2 separate regions of the Homo sapiens genome follow, and region 2 is linked to region 1. The links come from fine-mapping of genetic effects on gene expression. Tissue or cell type: whole blood. Region 1 holds a variant in brackets; the other region holds the start of a gene. All regions are shown on one strand. Distances are from middle to middle. Region 1 overlaps REEP5 (receptor accessory protein 5). Region 2 holds the start of REEP5 (receptor accessory protein 5).

Region 1 (11,341 bases):
GTTGTTTTTCTTTTGAAATGTACTCTTGGCCAGGCGTGGTGGCTCATGCCTGCAATTCTAGCACTTTGGGAGGCCGAGGCGGGCAGATGGCCTGAGCTCAGGAGTTCGAGACCAGCCTGGGCAACACGGTGAAACCCTGTCTCTACTAAAATACAAACGAAATTAGCTGGGTGTGGCAGAGTGCACCTGTAGTCCCAGCTACTCAGGAGGTGAGGCAGGAGAACTGCTTGAATCTGGGATGCAGAGGTTGCAGTGAACCGAGATCACACTACTGCACTCCAGCCTAGGCAACAGAGCCAGACTCCATCTCTAAAAAAAAAAAAAGAAATATATTCTTAAAATATCTTTTTATTTTAGCCTACAAACTGCTTTTCATCCATGAGTATCAGCTATCCCATCAGGCACTGGAATGGAGGGGGCCCCAGTCCATGCTAGTACTAGTAAGTTCTGGGTAGGGGGTGGATGAGTCCTAGGAGTGGGGGGCCCCAGGCACACAGGAACCATAGTTAACCACTCTTCACCTACAGAAGAGCTCCTCAGGTCAAAGCTTCACTGTACAGTCCCCTTCTACCCCAGCAAAGCAGCATCAAAAGGAAGTGATCCTGGGTTATAGTTCACAGCTCTAGGGGTTGGAGCAGGAGGGGTAGGGAAGTAACTGCCTTTAGTTAGTGTCCACCTGTTTTCCTGAGTGATTTGCAAAGACAGGACTTTTATGCCAAAACCTCTGTTTTAGAAAAAAGTAGAGGACAATATTTTTTAACTTTGAGGTATAGAAGCAAGACAAAATACAAAAGTTTCAAAGAAAAAGATTTGATAAATTCAACTAAAAATTTCTAAAAATTAAATTTCTATATGACAGTGGGCAGCATAAACAAAGTTAAAATAATGACAGACTAGGAAGATAGATTTACAACATTTACACCAAATAAGGAATATCCAGAATACATAACAATTTCCATAAGTAAAAAGAAAAAGAAAATGGGAAAAGGTTCTAAGTTAAGTATTTCACGGAAGAGAAAAAATATGAATGGCTAGTAAACAGCTCACCAGTGATGTGGGAAGTGTGAGTTAAAATAGTGAAATCCCATATTTTGTTCATTAAACTGGCAGATATTTTAAAGATTGAAAATATCTGGTATTGGTGAATGTATAGGGAAATGGACATGTAATGGTACAGGCTGAACATCTGAAATTGGAAATCCTAAATGCTTTAAAACCCCAAACTTTTTGAGTGCCCACATAATGATCAAAGGAAATGCTCATTGGAGCATTTAGATTTTAGAGTTTCTGATTTGGTATGCTCAGTTGGTATAATGTACATATTCCAAAATCTGAATAAATGTGAAACCCGAAACACTTTTAGTCCCAAGCATTTCACATAAGGGATACTTAACAGCCTAGTGGTATAAACTTGAATAACCTTTTTAAGGGACCTTTTAACCATTTCTTGTTGAATTGAAAAATGATACTCTTAACAATTCTAAGGAAATAGTCACTGTGCATTAAAGAGCTGCACAAAGATATTCATGGCAGCATTTTTTGTTGTCAACTGTATATAATATGAACTGCATAATGTAAACATTATAAACAGAAATGTCCATCAGCAGGTAAATGGTTCATTCAATTAATAGTATATCCATACAGTTAAATGGAATGAAATAGATCCATATGTACAGACCCAGAAATTTTTGCATAATTTAGTAATTATGAAAAGTTATACAGGACAGTTGTGCTAGCTTTTGCCTGTAATCCCAGCATACTCGGAGGCCAAGGCAGAAGGACTGCTTGAGGCCAGGAGTTTGACACCATCCTGGGCAACATGGTGAGACCCTGTCTCCACACACACAAATTTAAAAATTAACCAGGCTCCCAGATCACAGCATGTTGACCAAAAAAAAAAAAACCGAAAACCAAAAAACAAATGCCAGGCATGGTGGTGCATGCCTGTGGTCCCATCTGCTCAGGAGGCTGAGGTGGGAGGATGGTTTGAGCCCAGGAGTTCAAGGCTACAATAAGCAATGATCACCCAACTGCACTCTAGCCTGGGTGACAGAGTGAGACCCTGTCTCGAAAAAGAAAAAAAGTAATAGAACATTAAATACAGTATCACACCATTTATGGTTAAAAAAGAAAAAAGACAAGACACTATATGAAGTGAGTGTCTTTTAAAGTTTAAAAAATTAAATGAAAACATGCTCAGTATAGATTCTTTTATATTTTTGAATGACTTCACCACAGAATGCCTTGTAAGGCAATTAAGAATTTTCCTTTCAAAACTGATGGAAGAAAATAAAAATTGGTCTGTGGAAAGAGTTGATTTCAAAGATTGGATTTTTTTGTTTTTATTATTCAAAGTCATTTAACATTTATAAAAATATTCTTACAATCTTTAATTTGGACATGACATAATTTAAACTTCAGATAATTTTAAAGCCCTTAATAAGATCCATCTAATCGTAGGGACCTCACAGTAGTCTTTAGTGGAAAGAAATTGGCTTTTGCTTTGGGCCCACTTGCTTGTGGCAGTGAACACTATCTTGTCAGCAGAACTACTTGCAGTAGTTCTGACCTCAGACTTCCAAATGTGAGCAAGCTTGACTTCTAGCCTACTCCTAATCACCTCTGCTAATGGAGTTCACAGAGAGGTAGAGAGAAGATCCAAAATAAATGGTAGTCACTGAATCATTTATATTTGGTTTTGAAGTTCATTTAAAATATTGCTTTGTAGCAGACTTTCTTCCCTAATGGTAAAATGAATGTGCATCCATTAGTAGTCTCCAGCTGCATGGCATCATAGTGTTCATGAAAGTGAATTTATTGCATACATTCCAAATAGATAACATACTTGAAAGGATTAAACATTCATGATGCTGTCAATCAAAATACTTTCTTCCTACATTAGTGGCATACTCTGAATGACCTAGTGAACAGACTGAGAAGAGGCCTCTGAATTGCAGAGTCTCGTCTGTAGGAGAAGGTTCAGGAGAGTATTGAATTTTAGGGACTAGAATCCATCTTACCTATGCTGTTGCAATCGCATGCTGACTGGAAGTGTGGGAAAGAGACTTACAAGTAAGGACATGGGTTTGTTTTGTTTTTTGTTTTTTGGGACAGAGTGTTGCTCTGTCACCCAGGCTGGAGTGCAGTGGTGCCATCTTGGCTCACTGCAACCACTGCCTCTCCAGTTCCAGCGATTCTCCTGCCACAGCCTCCCAAGTAGCTGGGATTACAGGCACGCACCACCACACCCAGCTAATTTTTGTATTTTTAGTAGAGATGGGGTTTCGCCGTGTTTGCCAGGCTGGTCTCAAACTCCTGACCTCAAGTGATCTGCCCGCCTCGGCCTCTCAAAATGCTGGGATTACAGGTGTGAGCCACTGCTCCCAGCCCGAGGACATGTTTAATATTTTATTTTTTGCAGAGTTAATATTGTTGGCTTTATTTTCATTTTTCTAAAGCAGCTGATAAGATTGGAGGAAAATAAAAGGAGCCAATGGCTTGGCATCAAAGCTTAGTTGAGAAGATAATATATGATGTATTTAGGTAGAAATTGGATCATGCATATTCTGAGCTTTGCTCTGACATCTGGCCTTGAGCAAGAGGGTTTAAAAATAAATTTAAAAGCTTTTTTTCTTGATTATGAAATTTACATATGCTCATTCCTTTATTCAGCAGATTTATTTAGAACCTCCATGTGCCAGATTCTGTTCTACATCTGGGAGATACTTTGGCGAATAAAACAAAGTCCTTGTTGTCCTACTGTTTACATTTGTGTGTGTGTGTGTGTGTGTGTGTGTGTGTGTGTGTGTGTGTGATGGGATGTGTTTTATGTAGGGAGGAAAATAACATTTGTAATCCTACATCTTAGAGTAGTCTTCCTATTTTTTAAAATGTGCAAATATATTGGTCTGTGTATATAAATAAAAACAGAACTCTGTGTGTATGTGTATATATATATGTATGTATTGCTGTCTTAACATATGTGTGGCTTAGATCACATATGATATATAATTCTGTGTCTTGCTTTTTTCAATTAACACAGTATTCTGAGTATTTTCTCATGTTATTCAGTATTTTTTGACATAGCTATCTAATGTTATTGATAATTTACCTACTTCCCAATTGAAAGACATTGAGGACATTTGTCATGCGATTATACATAATGCTGCAATTAATATCTTTGTATCCTCTGTTTACCTTCATTTAAATCATTTTCTAGATTTACTTTACTTTTTTTGAGACGGAGTCTTGCTCTGTCGCCCAGGCTGGAGTGCAGTGGCGTGACCTCTGCTCACTGTAACCTCTTTCCCAGGTTCAAGTGATTCTCCTGTCTCAGCCTCCCGAGTAGCTGGGACTACAGGTGCACAACCACGCCCGGCTAATTTTTGTATTTTTAGTAGAGACGGGGTTTCACCATGTTGGCCAGGCTGGTCTCAACTCCTGACCTTGTGATCCACCCACCTCAGCCTCCCGAAGTGCTGCAATTACAGGCGTGAGCCACCAGGCCTGGCTAGATTTATTTTTAGAACAAGGTTGAGTAAACTCTGGCAAGATTAGGTCCTGACCTGAATTGTCACCTGTGCTATTTCACCCATTGACAGAGAATATAACATTTTTCTTTTCTTTTTTCTTTTTTTTGAGATGGAGTTTCGCTATTTCACTCAGGCTGGAGTGGAGTGAAGTGGCGTGATCTCTGCTCACTGCAACCTGTACTTCCCGCATTCAAGCAATTCTCCTGCCTCAGCCTCCCAAGTAGCTGGGATTACAGGTGCCCACCACCACGCTAGGCAAATTTTGTATTTTTAGTAGAGATGGGGTTTCACCATGTTGGCCAGGCTGGTCTCAAACTCCTGACCTCAGGTGATCCTCTTGGACACCTCAGCCTCCCAGAGTGCTAGGATTACAGGCGTAAGCCACTGTGCCTCGCAACATTTTTCTTCTTAATGTTCGTAGGAGGCTAAAAAGACAGGGAAATCTTTCCTTTAACACGTTCTTTTAAGCTTTTATTTGTGCATGCTGAGCAATGTAGCCTGTAACTATTCTGTGGCTACACTGCAAAAGCTTTCTTCTGACATTAACTCTCAGTTCCGTAACTGCATGTTAAGCATACCCCTACCTGGGAAATATCTCTTCTGGGGGAAAATCACATGGTGACAGCATTAGAAGCACAGACGGAATAGAATGGCCTGTTGTAATTCGTAATTTAAGGAGTCATTGTGTCAGTGCTAATAGTGCCAAGAGTCCAGTTAAAATAGCATGGACTCTGTCTGAACTGCAGGCAGCAGTGGGCTTGTGAGTCTCCTTGGGAGTATCATCAGCTGGCACTTTGAGGGCAGCTTGATTGAAAAGAGCCAGATCTGTGTGGGTGACTTTAATAAACTCAGGCTATTCCTGGGCTGTAGAATAGTTACACAGATTAAGAAGAGAGGGTTGTAAGAGGTGGCAGCTGAATATCACCTTGGGAGTTGAACAGTAATTAACTTTATTTTTAACATAAGAAAATGATTTCATTTCAGAACAGGAAAATGCTAAGGATGTAGCTAGAGAGCAGTAATTATTTTACTGTCTCAAGACAATAGCTAGAGGGTACCAGAAAGTAGTCAATTAACAGTCTGCAGTCTAGCCTACAAAGTAATCACATTGAAGAGGTACAAAACTGTGGACACTTAATTCATCCAGAAAAGATAATAAGCTTGTCTGGATTGCTGAAGGGTTGGCATCTACATAGGCAGGTAATATTTCAGAGATTTTCCACAATAAGAACTTTAGGATTTGGTAATACTACTATTCTATTGTACACTTTCTTCAAGTACATTAATTTGTGACTTTCCTAAAACTCTGCAGAAGAGAAAACTGTCTCTTAGGTTGATTTGCCTAAAGTCATAAAACACACCCCACCTCTCCTGATTTTTTTTTTTTTTTTTTTTTGAGACAGAGTCTCGCTCTGTCGCCAGGCTGGAGTGCAGTGGCGCAATCTCAGCTCACTGTAACCTCCGCCTCCTGGGTTCCAGTGATTCTCCTGCCTCAGCCTCCTGAGTGGCTGGGACTACGGGTGCCCACCACAATGCCCGGCTATTTTTTTTCTAATTTTAGTAGAGACAGGGTTTCACCATGTTGGCCAGGATGGTCTCGAACTCCTGACCTCGTGATCCACCTGCCTCGGCCTCCTAAAGTGCTGGGATTACAGGCGTAAGCCACTGCGCCCAGCCCCACCTCTCCTGATTCTTAATCCAATGAGTCATTTTCACTTCACCTTAATGCTCTGGTTTTAATATGGACATCTGTCTCTCTCTTGATAATCCATTTCTGAAAATCAGATATTCTATGTAGGAATACATTCTATGCAGAAGCTTATTTTCCACTATTTTAAGTGGGAAAAATTTTAATGTATTACATGTCAATGTAAAACTCAACGAATTCACTAAGTATTAATAAAATACAGCAAAATACCTATATATAACAAATATCATGTTAGGATGTTAGATGCTAAAAACACTTGCTGCTCTCCAAATAGTTAATATAGTAAGTAACAATTGCTCTGTGTGCAGGAATACATAGCACATCCCCTGTGATGCTCTGCATATTCTTCAAAATGTCCACCAAGGATTCTGATATTCTGTCAAAAATGTTACTCAAGACATTTCCTGCATATCATAATGTTGTATTGCATTTTGGGGATGTATAGCTTTTCCTATATAAGCAACTACAGTAAAACATTGTATGAATTTTGGATATTAAAAACCAAAAGGCAGCAGGGTGCAGTGGCTCACGCCTATAATCCTAAGCACATTAGGAGGCCAAGGTGGGCAGATCACGAGGTCAGATCAAGACCATCCTGGCCAACATGGTGAAACCCTGTCTCTACTAAAATACAAAAAATTAGCTGGGCACGGTGGCATGCGCCTGTAGTACCAGCTACTCGAGAGGTTGAGGCAGGGGAATCACTTGAATCTGGGAGGCGGAGGTTGCAGTGAGCTGATCACGCCACTGCACTCCCGCCTGGCAACAGAGCAAGACTCCGTCTCAAAAAAAAAAAAAAAACAAAAAAAACCAAAAAAACAAAACCAACCAAAAGGCTTCCACAGGGAAATAACTAGAGAGGTGGTCTTGCAGGGTCTGCTGTAATTAACTGGCACTATGCCAAGGAAACAAAGCTAATGCCAGTGAAAAATACAGTCATTTAATTCTCCATTTTGGGTCAATGCAAATGCGTATCTCAAAAAAACCAAGGTTCTGAACCTCTGGCAACATCTTATAATTCAGTAAGATCTGCTGCTGGCTAAACTTAGGGCATGCTAGAGCAGAGTTGCTGGGAAAACTAAGAGTAACATCGAACTACTTGCACATACTGAGGGTACCTCAAGGCGCTGGCTTCCTTGGAGTGCTTGGACCTTTAACAGAAGGTCTTAGTCTACCATTGTGTGTGTGCAGAAGGCTGATTTGAGTTTTTGCATGATTGCACATTCATGCACGTAGCATTACTATCCATGTGTAG[C/T]GAGACTACTAGATGCTAGTCTGAGTCTTTACCTTTCCATCATCTACTGTCATGCTTTCCCAAGTCTGAAGATCCTGTTTTCCAAGATCTGTGCTCAGTAAACAAGCTTTGGAGTCTTTAAATGTAAGGAATAGGAAAGGTGAAGAGAGGCCTGGCTTAAAATCATAACATGGAGATTATGGCAGTGAATCCCATTGGATTGAATGGTCTGATATGGAAAGCAGGCTGTGTAGTTCCACTAGTCCAAAAATTCTATTTTTTGAGACACAGTCTCGCTCTGTCACCCAGGCTGGAGTGAAGTGGCATGATGTCGACTCACTGCAACCTCCGCCTTCCAGATTCAAGCGATTCTCCTGCCTCAGCTTCCCAAGTAGCTTGGATTACAGACGCCTGCCACCACACCTGGCTAATTTTTGTATTTTTAGTAGAAATGGGGTTTTGCCATGTTGGCCAGGCTGGCCTCAAACTCCTGACCTCAAGTGATCCACCCACCTCAGCCTCCTAAAGTGCTGGGATTACAGGTGTGAGCCACTATACCTGGCCTGGTCCATTCTTTTTTTTTTTTTTTTTTTTTTTAAGAACAAAACTAGTTTATTTGGATTGGGGACTCTGAACAGTTCTGTCTCTATTACCCGACTTCCTCCTCCCACGACTTCGGCACCTAGAGGAACTTTGGCTCCGGCTGCGGTGGCTCCTGCGGCTCTGGCTCCGGCGGCCCTGGTCCCAGCTGCGGTGCCTATTTCTTCCTCTGCTTGGTGAATTGTGCCTCTCCCGACTCTTTGATGTGCGTTTGTGAGATTTCTTCCCCCTATGACTACTCTTTTTTCTCTCGGATTCCCCATTTCTTTTGTAGGTGTGGTCTGGACTAGGGTTTCTCCTTCCCCGCTGCCTGCTGTAGTAGTGGTCGTGGTGGCCCATCTTCTCCCTCCTCTCGGAGTTCTTGCCAAAGGAGGAGCCAGTCTGATCTGAAGACAAGTAGATGTCTCTATTAGCTTCCCAGAATTCATTGTTGGGATTTCTGAACACATGAAGAAAGTTGCAGTGTTTTCCTCTTGGACATTGTTGTATTTCAAATAAACCACAAATCGCCATTTTCCACCGGGTCACTGGGCAGAATTCACATTGCAGCTGTCGTCCTGCATACCATCGTCCGTTAAACAGAGAAAGGGCTGCTTGGCATTCTTCTTCCGACTGGTACTGAACATATACATTGCCCCTCAGGTGAGGTTCCAAATTGCAGCTGACCTTGAACTGAATCACTTTCCCCACGTTCTTGAACTCGGGCAACACATCCTCATAGAAATCTAGGAACTGTTGGTAGGTTTCTTCCTCGCTGTACTCCAGGCTTGCGTCAGGGTCATAGTCATCCCTCCTGCACTGCTCCATTCCAAACGTTGTAAACATGCTCTTAATAAGAAGGGTAGGACTAGATGTTGGGAAATTATGTTTACGTGAACATCTGTCTCCAAATCTGCAAGCTCCTGTTTTACTGTAGAAGGGACAATTAGCTCGATCCTTCTCCATTACTCTGAAATCCACGGGTGGTTCTGGGTTTTGCCATGTGGTACTATTTTCTAAATCATTTTCAGCCTGATCCAGCATCTTCTGCACAGCTTCCTCTTTTTCTTTCTTCTCCTGTTGTTTCTGCTCCTCCTCTTCTCTCTCTTTCCTCTGCTGTTCTTTCCATTGTTCCTTTAACTTTCTCTCTTGTTCTTCTAGCCATTTTTTAGCCGCCTCTTCCTTTTCCTTCTTTATTCTGAATTCTTCTTGTGCCTTCTGCTCCCTCAGCAACCACTCCTCATGTAATCTTTCCCTCTCTCTTTCCAATAGCTTCTCTTCTTCTAGTTGTTGTTCTTCAATAAAAGTGTCCTCTTCCTCCTCCTGTGAGAGTCCTGAGTCTCTCAGTCGAGCAAGTTCCTGCCGACGTTTCTTTCGTTTCTCCTTCTTCAGGGCGGCCCTGTACTTTTTGTGGCTTGGTTTCTCTGGAAATGTCATCTTCTTGGGAAACGTCATCTTCTCAAGTGCAGCCATCTTGCCAGCACCGCCTGACCCCTCAGACATTCTTAACCTATGGGAATATATGGAAGATTTTGTTCATAGCTGCCACTGTCAGTGATTCTACTTATGAATATTTTATGTTTTCTAGTATTGTTTTGTTTGCATACTTATATATATTACAAATTACTTTCATTTTGTTTCTCCTTTATATTGCAGTTAGACTTTTTTTGTAATTAAGTATATCATAAATTTGAATTTCATTTCATGTACTAAAAGGAGAGTTCTAAAATATTTACTTATGGCCAGGTGCGGTGGCTCACTCCTGTAATCCCAGCACTTTAGGAGGCCGAAATGGGCGGATCACCTGAGGCCAGGAGTTTGAGACCAGCCTGGCCAACATGGCAAAAACTCATCTCTACTAAAAATAAAAAAATTAGCCAGGCTTGGTAGCACGTGCCTGTAATCCCAGCTACTTGGGAGGCTGAGGCAGGAGAACTGCTTGAACCCAGGAGGCAGAGGTTGCAGTGAGCCAAGACTGTGCCACTACACTCCAGCCTGGGTGACAGAGTGAGACTCTGTCTCAAAAATAAAAAATAAAAATAAATATTTGCTTAAATATTTTTGGTTCTAGGATTTGCTTTCCCCTACTGAAAGCTAACATGTTCTCCTGTTAGTAATGTTTCATAGATGTTGTTAGAAAACACAGTATTCTTGGGTCAGAGAAAGTCCTTGCTATGCTTAGTAATTTTATTTTCTTACAAAATTATAGGGGTAAATTTTAAAATTTTCAATTAATACCTATTTTATAGAGGAAAAACCAGACTTAAGTGATTAAGTAACTTGTATAAGGTTTGCTTAGCTAGTAAATGGCAGAACCAGGATTGGAAGTTAGTTTCTTTGAGTCCATCCTGTTACTCTCTATATACTATATTAACTCTTTGAATCCCTCTTTGTTGGGTTGAGAGATCTGTATATATCTTTAGAGTGAGATTTTAGGCCAGGTGCAGTGGCTCACACCTGTAATCCCAGCACTTTAGGAGGCTGAGATGGGTGGATCACTTGAGGTCAGGAGTTCGAGACCAGCCCGGCCAACATGGCGAAACCCCATCTCTACAAAAAGTACAAAAATTAGCCAGACGTGATGGTGCGTGCCTGCATGCCTGTGGTCTTCAGCTACCTGGGGGGCTGAGGCGGGAGAATCACTTGAGCCCAGGAAGTTGAGGCTATAGTGTTTTGTATTTGTGCCACTGCACTCCTGCCTGGGTGACAAAGTGAAACCCTTTTTTATTTAAAAAAAAAAAAAGACTTAAATTTTGTGTTCTTTATTCTGTATTCTTACTAATTTCTAGGTTGTTTTATATATCAACTTTTTTTTGTCTTTTTGAGACAGGGTCTTGCTGTCTCACCAAGCCTGGATTGCAGTGATGGTATCACAGCTCACTGCAGTCTCGACCTCCCAAGGTCAAGCCACCCTCCCACCTCAACCTCCCAGGAGGACCACAGGCATACATCACCAAGCCTGGCTAATTTTAAATTTATTTTTTGTGGCCGGGTGCGGTGGCTCACGCCTGTAATCCCAGCACTTTGGGAGGCCGATGGGGGTGGATCATTTGAGGTCAGGAGTTCAAGACCAGCCTGGCCAACATGGTGAAACCCCGTCTCTACTAAAAATACAAAAATTAGCTGGGCATGGTGGTGTTTGCCTGCAGTCCCAGCTACTTGGGAGGCTGAGACAGGAGAATCGCTTGAATCCGGGAGGCGGAGGTTGCAGTGAGCTGATATTGTGCCACAGCACTCCAGCCTGGGTAAGAGAGCAAGAATCAGTCTCAAAAAAAAAAAAAAATTTTT
Region 2 (11,778 bases), 27 kb before region 1:
GCTTTGTCCATATTTTCAGTAGAAAATGTTTAAGAATAGGACAAATGAGGTAAAGAAAATGTAATTCAAATATATTCAATGAAACATGGTGATTTTCACATTTTATTTCCTTCAATGCTCTTTCTTAAATTACATTCAGACTCTACATTTTCCTCCCATCGTCTGGCAAGTCCGTGTCTCAGGTTTTGTTTACTCTGTCTTTTTCCCTTTTTATTCTGATGACATGTCATCATAAGCCTCCTGCAGCAGAGGGAGGGTGTATGTGCCAACAGGGCTGTGTCTGCAGGGGCTGAGGGTCTCCTGCCTGTCTCATTGGTGCCATACCAGGGTACCCTACAAATGCAGGGGTGGGGGAAAGGAAGGAAGAGATTACCTGACAAATTATGCTGTACCTCTTCTTCCTAACATGAGTAAGAACAAATGTGTTTGATGACTTCAACTTGTTTTCTTACCCTGAAGAAACAGTTTGTGTAGAACAAAAGTGACCTGATCTGAGTTCTCCAGCAGAATTTTCTTCTCTAGCTCACAGAGGGTATAATAATAGTATTTGCCTCATCCCAAGTCAGTTCAACTTCCTCCTTAGAAACTGCCAAAGTTGGCCAGGTGCAGTAGCTCATGCCTGTAATCCCAGCACTTTGGCAGGCTGAGGCGGGCGGATCACAAGGTTAGGAGATCGAGACCATCCCGTCTAACACGGCAAAACCCCATCTCTACTAAAAATACAAAAAAAAAAAAAATTAGCCGGGTGTGGTGGCGGGTGCCTGTAGTCCCAGCTACTCAGTAGGCTGAGGCAGGAGAATGGCATGATCCCAGGTGGCAGAGCTTTCAGTGAGCCAAGATTGCGCCACTGCACTCCAGCCTGGGGGACAAAAAAAAAAAAAATTGCCAGTGTCAACCGGTTCCAGGCCAACCTTCTTCACAGCCTCCAAAACAGATCTCATCTATCTAGTTCCCAGATCTAACAGCATCTGGCACACAGGATATATTTAGTAAATATGAGTAAGTGAATAGTTTGAGACCTTAGGCAGGGTTCTGGGTTCTTATTTTCTGCATCTCTTTCCTCTGCTATGAAAGAATCTAAGGTTTACAGTGCTGATGGGATAAACTAGGATCCCATACTCCCCGAATCTGATTGTAATTTACTAAAGTCAAGAATAATGTAATATTTCTCTATCTCAATTTTAGAGGCTGGGCATGATGGCTCACTCCTGTAATCCCAGCACCTTGGCAGCCTGAGGTGGGAGGATTGCTTGAGCTCAGGAGTTCAAGATCAGCCTGAGCAACATGGTGAAATGCCATCTCTACAAAAAATACAAAAATTAGCCAGGCTTGGAGGCATGTGCGTGTAGTCCCAGCTACTTGGGAGGCTGAGGTGAGAGGATGGCTTGAGCCTAGGAGGCAAAGGTTGCAGTGAGCTGAGATTACACCACTGCACTCCCGTCTCGGTGACAGAGCCAGACCTTGTCTCAAAAAAAAAAAAAAAAAAAAAAAAAAAATTACACCTAGCTGTGTTTTTTTTCTTTCTTAAATTATTTAAACACTTATTTTGCATCAAGTACTCTTCTAAAAACATTACAAATAGTAACTCACCTAACCATGATGAGAACTCTGTGAAATAGGTACTATTTTTATCCTTGTTTTACAGATGAGAGACCAGAAGCACAGAGAGCTTATGCAACTTGCCCAAAGTCACATAGCTAAATGGTAGAGCTGGGATTTAGCTCATACAGACTGAATCCAGAGATAGAACTCCACACTATGCCTCACTATACTGCTTTGCCTCACCATTGGTTGAATGCTTGAAGAAAGAAGAAATTTGGAATCTATGTCAAGAGAAAATTGAAAAGAGCAATATTTACAGAAAGAAAGCCAAGGGCTGGGCACAGTGGCTCACATCTATAATCCCAGCACTTTGTGGGGTCAAGGTGGGAGGATTGCTTGAGCCCAAGAGGTCAGGGCTCCAGTGAGCCATGATGGTGCCGCTGCACTCCAGCCAGGACAACAGAGTAAGATCCTGTCTTGAAAAATAAAAAAATTAAAAAAAAAGGAAGAAAGGAAGAAATGCAAATGAACAATATGTTTCTAGATATTCCATGCATAGTTAATGTAGTACAAATGTTGCCACTGCATGAAATGTAGTGACAAAAACCTAGGTTGATTTGGATACCTAACTTAAAAGGATTTTGCTCCTTTGCTAAAATAAATAAATAATAAATAAAACAATCAAATTGTGAGGCTGGGTGTAGCGGCTCATGCCTGTAATCCTAGCACTTTGGGAGGCTGAGATGGGCGGATCACTTGAGCTCACAAGTTTGAGGCCAGCCTGGGCAACATGGCAAAACTCCATCTCTACAAAAAAGTACAAGAATTAGCTGGGTGTGGTGGTGCACACCTGTAGTCCCAGCTACTTGGAAGGCTGAGGTGGGAGGATGGCGTAAGCCCAGGAGGTGGAGGTCAGTGAGCCAACATTGTGCACTGCACTTCAGCCTGGGTGATACAGTCAAACCTTGTCTAAAAAAAAAAAAAAAAAAAAAAAAAAATCAGGACCGGCACTGTGGCCACCTGTAATCCCAGCACTTTGGGAGGCTGAGGCAGGCAGATCACTTGAGGTCAGGAGTTCAAGACCAGCCTGGCCAACATGGTGAAACCCCATCTCTACAAAAAAATACAAAAATTAGCCAGGCGTGGTGGTGTGCACCTGTAGTCCCAGTTACTCAGGAGGCTGATGCACGAGAATCATTTGAACCTGGGAGGCTGAGGTTGCGGTGAGCCAAGATCATGCCACTGGACTCCAGTCTGGGTGACAGAGGCAGACTCCATCTCAAAAAAAAAAAAAAAATCAAATTATGAATCACTTTAAGTATTCAAAAACAACCCCAACTTAATATACATACTGTACTCAGTAGGAAATTATACAAACTCACAACTGGTTTGAAGTTTACAGTTCAGTTATTCTGCTAAGCAGCTGTACTAGTTTCCTAGGGCTGCTGTAACAGTCTCACAAACTGGGTAGCTTAAATAATAGAAATTGAGGCCAGGTGCAGTGGCTCATGCCTGCAGTCCCAGCACTTTGGGAGGCCAAGATGGGGAGATCACTTGAGGTCAGGAGTTTGAGACCAGTTTGGCCAGTGTGGTGAAACCCCATCTCTACAAAAAAAAAAAAAATTAGCTTGGCATGGTGGCACACACCTGTAGCCCCAGCTACTTGGGAGGCTGAGGTGGAAGAATTGCCTGAACCTGGGAGGTGGAGGTTGCAGTGAGTGGAGATTGTGTCACTGCAGTCCAGCCTGGGTGACCCAGTGAGACCCTGTCTCTAAATAAATAAATAAAACAGAAATTTATTATCTCACAGCTCTGGAGGCTGGAAGTCCAAGATCAAGGTCTCAGCAGGATTGGTTCCTTGTGAGGGTTGTGAGGGAATGATCTGTTCCAGGACTTTCTTCTTGGCTTGTAGATGGCCATCTTCTCCCTGTGTTTCTTCACAGTCTTCCCTTTATATGCATCTGTCTCCGTCCAAATTTCACCCCCCCTTTTTTTTTTGAGACAGAGTCTCGCTCTGTTGCCCAGGCCGGAGTGCATTGGCTTGATCTCGGCTCACTGCAAGCTCTGCCTTCTGGGTTCACACCATTCTCCTGCCTCAGCCTCTTGAGTATCTGGGACAACAGGTGCACGCCACCACGCCCGGCTAATTTTTTGTATTTTTAGTAGAAATGGGGTTTCACCGTGTTAGCAAGGATAGTCTCGATCTCCTGACCTCGTAATCCACCTGCCTCGGCCTCCAAAGTGCTAGGATTACAGGTGTGAGCCACCGCGCCTGGCCAAATTTCCCATTTTATAAGGACAACAGTCACACTGGATTGAGGTCCACCCTAAGGAGTTCATTTGAATTTGACTACCTCTTTGAAGACCCTATTACCAAATAAGATCACACTCTGAGGTACTGTAGGTTAGGATTCCAACATGTCTTCTTTAGGGAGGTAGAATACAATTCAACCCATAATAGCAATGTAATATAGGGGTAAGAGCCTGATTCTGAATTCTAGCTCTGCCACTTATTGTGATATGGGAACTCACTATGTCTCATTTTTTTTTTCCTTAAATGAGGATGAAACAGGTAGCATCTTCCTCATGCAGCTGTGAGGATTAAATGAACTAGTCCACGTAACACTTGGAATACTGGGTGGTACAACACATGTTAGATATTCATTCATTCATTAATTCAACAAATAGTTATTGAACAACTACTAAGTGCCAGGCACTGTTCAATGTGCTTAAAATATTGAAGCAAATAAAATAAGCAAAAATGTCTACCCTCACGGAGCTCATAATCTAGTGAGGAAAGAAAGATAATTTAAAAATAGAACATGGTCTGGCATGGTGGTGGCTCATACCTGTAATCCCAGAACTTTGGGAGGCCAAGGTGGGCAGATCACAGAGTTCAAGACTGGCCTGGGTAACATAGTGAAACCCCATCTATACTAAAAACAGAAAAAATTAGCCGGACATGGTGGCACACGGCTATGGTCCCAGCTACTTGGGAGGCTGAGGTGGGAGGATGGCTTGAGCACAGCAGGAGGTCGAGGCTGCGGTGAGCTGTGACCACGCCTCTGTACTCCAGCCTGCGTGACAGAGTGAGACAGTCTCAAAAAAAAAAAAAAAAAAGTAGAACATAATGCCAGACAGTAATAAATTCTATGGAGAAAAATCAAGCTAGAGACCACTGGGGGTTGCAATTTGAGATTAGGGGTACCATTTGAACAAATATCTGAATAATGGAAGGGGACAGTTAAATGGTTAACTGGGGAAAGATACTTTCAGATAGAGGAGGGTTTCTGGACTGTCACATTATTGACATTTGGGGCTGGATAATTCTTTGTTGTGGGGGCTGTCCTGTGTGTTACAGGATGTTTAGCAGCACCCCTAGTCTCTAACCACTAGATGCTAGTTGCACTTGCCACCTCCTGCTCTCCTTGTGTGACAATCTGTTTCACAACGAAAGTATCTCTAGACATTGCTACTCCTCCCCCCAGGAGGAAGAAGGGGAGAGGAAGTGCTCCTGGTTGAGAACCACTGAAATAGAAGAAAAGTGAACGAACGCCCAGAGGCAGGAATGGGCTTACCTTGTCTGAGGCACAGCAAGGAGGGAGGCAGTAAGGGAAGACATCAGAAAGGGGAGGGATGAACCATGTCACCTGTGACCCTGATGCCCTCCTTCAGGCAGATAGGAAGTTGCTGGAGGGTTGAGAACAAAAACATAGCACAACTTGACGCACATTTTAAAACAGATTCTACTGTCTGCCACATTGAGAATTAACTGTAGGTGAAAAGACAGAAGTAGACAGCAGGTTGTTTCACTTGTTCACTGATTTGGCTGGGTGGTGGTAGGAACAGCTGAGAAAGCTGAGCTAAGAAGCTCTGAGGAAGAAAGGAGGAAGGAGAATTAGCATAAAAGGAAAAAGCTAGGCGTGGGCAAGATAACTTTTTGCAGAAGTGGAAGGCAGTAGGGTAATTAAGTAGATTTGAAAGCACAGAGGGGTTGTGTAGGACCAAGACAGAATGTTCGGGGCCAGTTGTGGGCAGGGCATTGAATGCTCTGCCAAGGAATGGGAGCTCTAGTCTGTTAGGATAATAATACGGAGCTTCGGACAAAAATTCTGCAGCAGTGTGCAGAATAGGAGTCAACAAGAGTAATTTTAGGAGTGTCTGGAAGTCATATGGGTGAGATAAGAGGAGCCTAGGTTTAGGTGGAGGAAGAGCATGGCCAACTCATTCTGAAGGAAGCAAAAATGAGCTCCTGCCCTAAGGCTTGGACCTTAGAATCTCCGTCTTCTTCAGAGTATTTTGACTGTAGGAAGTGCAGAGTATATTGGCTCCACAGAGAGAATTTGGACACTTGCCACAGTATCAGACACCAAGACAACGCAAGCCCACCATGAAAAGATTTAATGCAGTTTTTGCTTGGAAAAGGTGTACCCCAGGGAGGATGTGTTAGATTTCTTCAAGGGTCTTTACAAGGCAACGATTGTCTGTAGGTGAGAAAAACTGCCAAGTTAAGGCAAAGAGGGAGAAAGCAGGACTGCTTCCAAAGAGTTCTTTCACGATGCTCAAACATTTCAATTTTTTAGGTCAAAAATGCCTTAGGTTTAGCACAGCAATGTAGGTGCCAAACTCATCGCAGTGAATTGCAGGCGGGAGCAACAAGGACGCCTGCCTCCTTTCTGCCTGCTTTTTGCAATAGTCCGATTTGAGAAGGGGACCCACGAGAGACACAAAATGCACGCCCCCACGCCACATCCTTTTTACCCCGCAATGGGTTAAGACTGTCAACAGGCAGGCCACCTCGCAGCGTCCGCGGAGTTGCAGGCCCGCCCCCGCCAGGGTGTGGCGCTGTCCCCCTGGCGCTGGGCGGGGGAGGAGGGGCGCGCGGCGGCCGAGGAGGGGCGCGCGGCGGCCGGGCGGGGCGAGCGGAGGCGAGTGGAGGACGCGTAGACGCGCCGCGGTCCCCGCCTGCCGCTGCTCCGCCGCAGTCGCCGCTCCAGTCTATCCGGCACTAGGAACAGCCCCGAGCGGCGAGACGGTCCCCGCCATGTCTGCGGCCATGAGGGAGAGGTTCGACCGGTTCCTGCACGAGAAGAACTGCATGACTGACCTTCTGGCCAAGCTCGAGGCCAAAACCGGCGTGAACAGGAGCTTCATCGCTCTTGGTGGGTGGCCGGGGGTCGCCGCCGCTGGTAGGGCCACGGGAGCCGCCGCTGCCCCAGCTGCTGGGGAAGGAAGCAGGGAGAGGACTCGGGAAAGGTGGAGTCGGAGACAGACGGGACAAGCAGCATATTCAGGGATCAGGCTGGCCTCCCGGAAAGCGTGGGCATCGGAGGACCCCGCGGGGGCTGCCCAGGCTGAGGGTCGCGGGGCTGGAGGGCAGCTGCGGCGCCGGGCGCTGGCAGCTGGAAGGGCCAGCGCTGACGTATGTCTGCCCCGCGGCCCGGCGCCCTATTCCTGCTGTCCTGCGCGGTGGGCGCGGACGGCGGGGCCCCTGCGGGCGGGCGCGTTGACGGAGGTACCCGGTCCTACCCGACCCTCCGTGGAGCTCCGCCCGGAGAGGGCGCCTCTCGGGTGGGCGGGGGCTGCTACTGCAGCGTGTGCGGGAGTCCGGGCCTCTCGGGACGCTCCCCGCTGAGCGCAGCTTCCCAGGCTGGAGCGCTGCCCAGCAGGCCCTGCGAGAGGGCGGAAGCGGGTGCCTGGGACCGTCCCGGGCGCCGGGGGTTGCTGCGCAAAGCGCCGGGGCCCCCTGCGGGAGGTAGGAGAGGCACAATGGTGGGGCTGCCTGGTATCCCCAGACTTCAAGGCATAGCCCAGCGGACGCGCAGGCCCAGCTTTCGTGTGGTTTGTTTTTCTCGCTCCTTTAATCGAGTCGAGAGGAAAACTCCTACAACAGGCCCAGCCTCGCGGTGTGGGCGGCGGCTGTCCCGCGTGAACGGCTCTCATGCTGCCCGACCCACTTCTCTCCTTGTGGTCCCCAGGTGTCATCGGACTGGTGGCCTTGTACCTGGTGTTCGGTTATGGAGCCTCTCTCCTCTGCAACCTGATAGGATTTGGCTACCCAGCCTACATCTCGTAAGTGACACACCCTGCAGCCGTCCCCTTCCCTTCCTCCATTCCTCCCCGCAGGGCTGCTGCAGTAGACTGCACATCCGCAATTCCCGGGAGAAAAGTGAAAGCTCGGCGGGGAGGGATGAGGTTGGACATAAGGGGTGGGGATAGTATTCACCATTTTGGAACCTTAACTTAATCCCTATCTCTTGACGATTAGCCCAGAGGTATTTTCATTAGATTATCCTGGTGACCAGTGTCCCCTCTCTTTGGCACACTAACAGGAAAGCGCTACCACTCTGTCGTCCTCCCTTTACTGGTGGGAGGATCTCAGAAGGTACAGGGAGCTGAGCACTTCTGTCTAGTAATTATTTTAATGAGTATTTCACCATATATTTATGCACCTAGAGAGTAAAACCCTATCAATTAGGTCTTCCTTAATTCATAATTACGTTAATTGAGACAGTAGGGAGAATTTTCTCATTTTCTTTTATTTTGAAAAAGCCACATGTTACAGACAAACTTGGGAAATGCTTACCCTAGTGTAAAAACAAAAACCTTTAAAAATGCTCCATGATATAGCTCCTTGGTTATATAAGTGAGTCATTTATATAATTGAGCTACTTAAAAAATGAATTTTTACGATTAGGATCTGAATTTATTACCAAAGTTGTTTTTATTCTACAATGTGTTTATTTTTTTTAATTCTACGATTTTATTTTTCCATTCGTTCAAGTAGGAATTATTCCTCTCCAGAAATGAATTTTGTTTTGCTCTACAGTTCTTCCTAAGAAAGCCAGTGGTTTTTACCTTCATTCAGTTGGTCTCTGCTACTTTCTTCAACCATAGGGATAAAAATAAAGGAAGAAAAAATTTTCACCTAGGAGGCTAAGACACAGATAACACATTATTACAGCTTGTATCTGTCACTAGTTAGGCTAGAATTTAGTCTATGACTATAAGGGAAGAAACATGTTTTAGAAGTTAGTTCTGATTTGAGCAATTAAATTGCAGTTACCTAGTAGTTGTTACTGTGTTAGTCCGGTACAGACACTTAGTCATACTCCAGAAAGTCTAGCTACATATAGCCCTGAGGCCTACCCCGGGCTCTGCTTTATGGAGGAGACTCAAGGAAAAACGGGATTGTGTGCACAGAATAAAGCATACAGACCCCCGTGAGCAAATATTCAGGCGGTCGGTGTTACATTAGTCTAATCAAGTCTGTTCATTGCATAACCAATATGATTGTATAATTGTCCAAAAGAAAGAAAAAGTATTTGAAAATGGTGGTCTTTAGTAGCATCAAAATCCATGTTGCTTAAAGTGTGACCTGTGAACACTGTCTTAGTCTGCTTGGGCTGCTATAACAAAATACCTTAGACTGGATAATTTATAAACAATAGAAATTTATTGCTCACAGTTCTGGAGGCTGGGAAATCCAGGACCAAGGCACCAGCAGATTTGGTGTCCGGTGAGGGCTTGCTCCCTGCTTCAAAGATGGCATCTTCTCACTGCTTCCTCACATGGTAGAAGGGTCAACTGGCTCCCTCAAGCCTCTTTTATAAGGACACGAATCCCATGCATGAGGGCAGAGCTCTCATGCCTGTTTCTTTTCTTTTGAGACAGAGTCTCGCTCTATATTGCCCAGGCTGGAGTGCAGTGTCGTAATCTCAGTTCACTGCAACCGCCATCCCTGGCCGCCCCCACCCCCGCCAAATTCAAGCAATTCTCCTGCCTCAGCCTCCCTAGTAGCTGGGATTACAGGCGTGTGCCACCACGCCTGAGTAATTTTAGTATTTTTAGTAGAGATGCGGTTTTGCCATGTTAGCCAGGCTGATCTTGAACTCCTGACCTCAGGTGATCCACCTGTCTCAGCCTCCCAAAGTACTGGGATTACAGGCGTGAGCTACCACACCTGGCCAAGCCCTCATGTCTTAATTGCCTCCTAAAGGCACCACTATTTAATACTAATACATTGGGTATTAGGTCCCAACATATGGATGTTGGGGGAACACAACATTCAGACCATAGCAGTCACCTTCATTTTAACTATTCTCCATACCTCTTGTAACTCTTATGCTCCCTAGCCAGAGTTATTTTTTAAAATACAGGTTCATCTATTTAGCAAAAATCAAATGCCAGTCACATGTGTGGCACTGTGGTAGCACTTTAGATATGGCAAGAAATAAGGTAGTCATACTCTCTGTCCTTGTTGAATGAGCAGTCTACCCAGGCAAGAAATAGGCAAAGTAGTGACCGTGTGGTAAGCCCTCTAAAGTAAATAAACAGTTCTGGTAGAGAAGACCTGAGGAATGAGAAGGGGCCAGCCAAGAGCAGAGCCAGGGAGAGGGAGAAGAGTGTGTCAGGCCCTGAGGCAGCACACAGCTTAGCTCTGTGTGAGCAAAGAGTGGTGGGGGAGGCACCAGAGAGGTGCAGGTGCCAGCAGGTAGGGTCAGTGGTAGAAGTGTGCATTTCATTCCAGATGGTGGTAGGGAGTTTGCATTTTCTGATTGCCTTGGATGGGTTTTAAATAGGGGGTGACATGATACGATTTATATTTTAAGGTCACTTTGGCTGCTGTGACCTCTGTAAGGAGTTCGCGATCTTGCCAAACTATTGCCAGTAATTTACTTCCTTCCTTTCTCACCTTTCAGCCTTTCTCTTGCTGTTTCCTCTCCTTGGGCCATCACAAGAAGGGGAGTAGTGTCAGTATTGGGTCAAGAGACTGCAGGATGCAAAGATGAAATTGGGAAAAGCTCACTTGGCTTCCTAGCTTTTCTCCCTTTGGACTCCCTTTGGAAGTCTGTGAGTGAAGCTCAGGTGCACCTGGCTCCTGGTCAGGGTCTGCTGCACGTTGGAGCATGTAGATGGTTGAAGACTTGCCCAGTGCTCACTGGGGAGCAACCAGTACCTTATTGTATACCCCTCTTCCTACTGGTTGTTCTTTCCGTGTGCATAATTTCCCTTTGAGCTCTTTGAGAACAGGGTCTTTCATCTCTGACTTCTAGTTTCTAGAATTTTTGGCCATCTTATATAGGCAATTCGGAATCTAATTCCAGCCTTCCTTTCATCAAGAACTGTTGACATAATTACCTTAATCTCCTTACTTCCCTCTTTTACTGATAACAGGAGGCAGACTACTGGAAATGTTTATTATAAAGATAGACCTCCCCCCATTGCTAAGATATAATTTAGATACTTATAAATTGTACACTTTTAAAGTATGCAGTTCAGTGGCTAGTATGTTCAGAGTTGTGTAACCATCACCACTGTCTAATTCCAAAACATTTTTATCACCCCAAAGGGAAACCATCACCAATCACTCCCTATTCCTCCTACCCAGCCCCTGGAAACCACTAATCTGCATTCTGTTTCTATGAGTTTGCCTATTCTGAGCATTTCATGTAGACGGAATCATACAATATATGGCCTTTAATGTCTGGTGCAGCCCTGCTTCTAATGGGATTGCACAAATAAGAGTCCTCTGGAGGGTGTATGCTGTGCTGCACCCTCATATGTGAGTAAGTCCTCCTGGTGCAGTCCCTCCAGGGTGGGCGCTAGTGAGCCAGGGCCCTAGTCCTGTACTTGCTCCTTTGTACAAATGGAATTGTGAGGCAAACTCAGACTTTATCTTCTATTTAAGGAAAGGGGAAGGTTTGCTTTCTGTCCTACCCAGTAACTTTTTTGCTTAAAATTCTATAAAAATGTCTATTACTTTTCCTCTTTTTATTTCATATTTTCCTTAAGACTTGGGCTGCCACCTTCCTGGGACTATCAGAGTTGGGCCTTAAAGATCAAACAGGTAGTCCAGTTCCTTTAGTTTTAAAATGACAATTCAGGGACAGAGAAAGGTGGAGTGTGTTTCCCAAGGTCACACAGAGGCCAGGCTTGGTCTGGAACTACACAGGAATGTAAAGCACATTTAGGCATATTTTAGTGCCAATGTTAGAAAGATTAAATATGTTTAGGGGGCGGGGCATGATGGCCCACATCTGTAATCTCAGCACTTTGGGGTGCTGAGGCAGAGGGATTGCTTGAGGCCAGGAGTTCAAGACGAGAGTCCAGCACTATATATTTAATCTTTAACAACACTTTTGAAATCTCATACCCAGTTCAGTAATGTGTCATTTTAGTTTCTGTGTGTCCTCACAAGCCCATTTTAAACTTTTGCTGCTGGTGTAAAGAGTT

The links. PIP is the estimated chance that this variant, and not a neighbour inherited with it, causes the effect. A credible set is the group of variants that fine-mapping cannot tell apart.
Region 2: REEP5 starts here. The variant in region 1 is the best candidate, but not a certain one, in a credible set for the expression of REEP5 in whole blood (TOPMed, PIP 0.55).

What each region holds. Positions count from the first base shown.
Region 1 is chr5:112,889,825-112,901,165 of GRCh38, reverse strand. The region is part of intron 3 of REEP5 (receptor accessory protein 5); the gene reads left to right. It also overlaps a transcript of SRP19 not described here and the pseudogene ZRSR2P1. Among named protein-coding and RNA genes, the nearest start is that of REEP5, 27 kb to the left of the region's middle. RefSeq lists a silencer at 4,298-4,347 and an enhancer at 8,710-9,909. The variant C/T (reference allele first, on the strand shown) is at 7,496.
Region 2 is chr5:112,916,999-112,928,776 of GRCh38, reverse strand. REEP5 (receptor accessory protein 5) reads left to right here and starts at 6,550. Exons shown (of 5, transcript NM_005669.5): 1 at 6,550-6,704; 2 at 7,521-7,614. The coding sequence starts at 6,587. It overlaps LOC105379123 (a long non-coding RNA gene), which reads right to left and starts at 6,390. Exons shown (of 3, transcript XR_948675.3): 1 at 5,121-6,390. RefSeq lists an enhancer at 5,028-5,147 and silencers at 6,280-6,549, 6,910-7,359.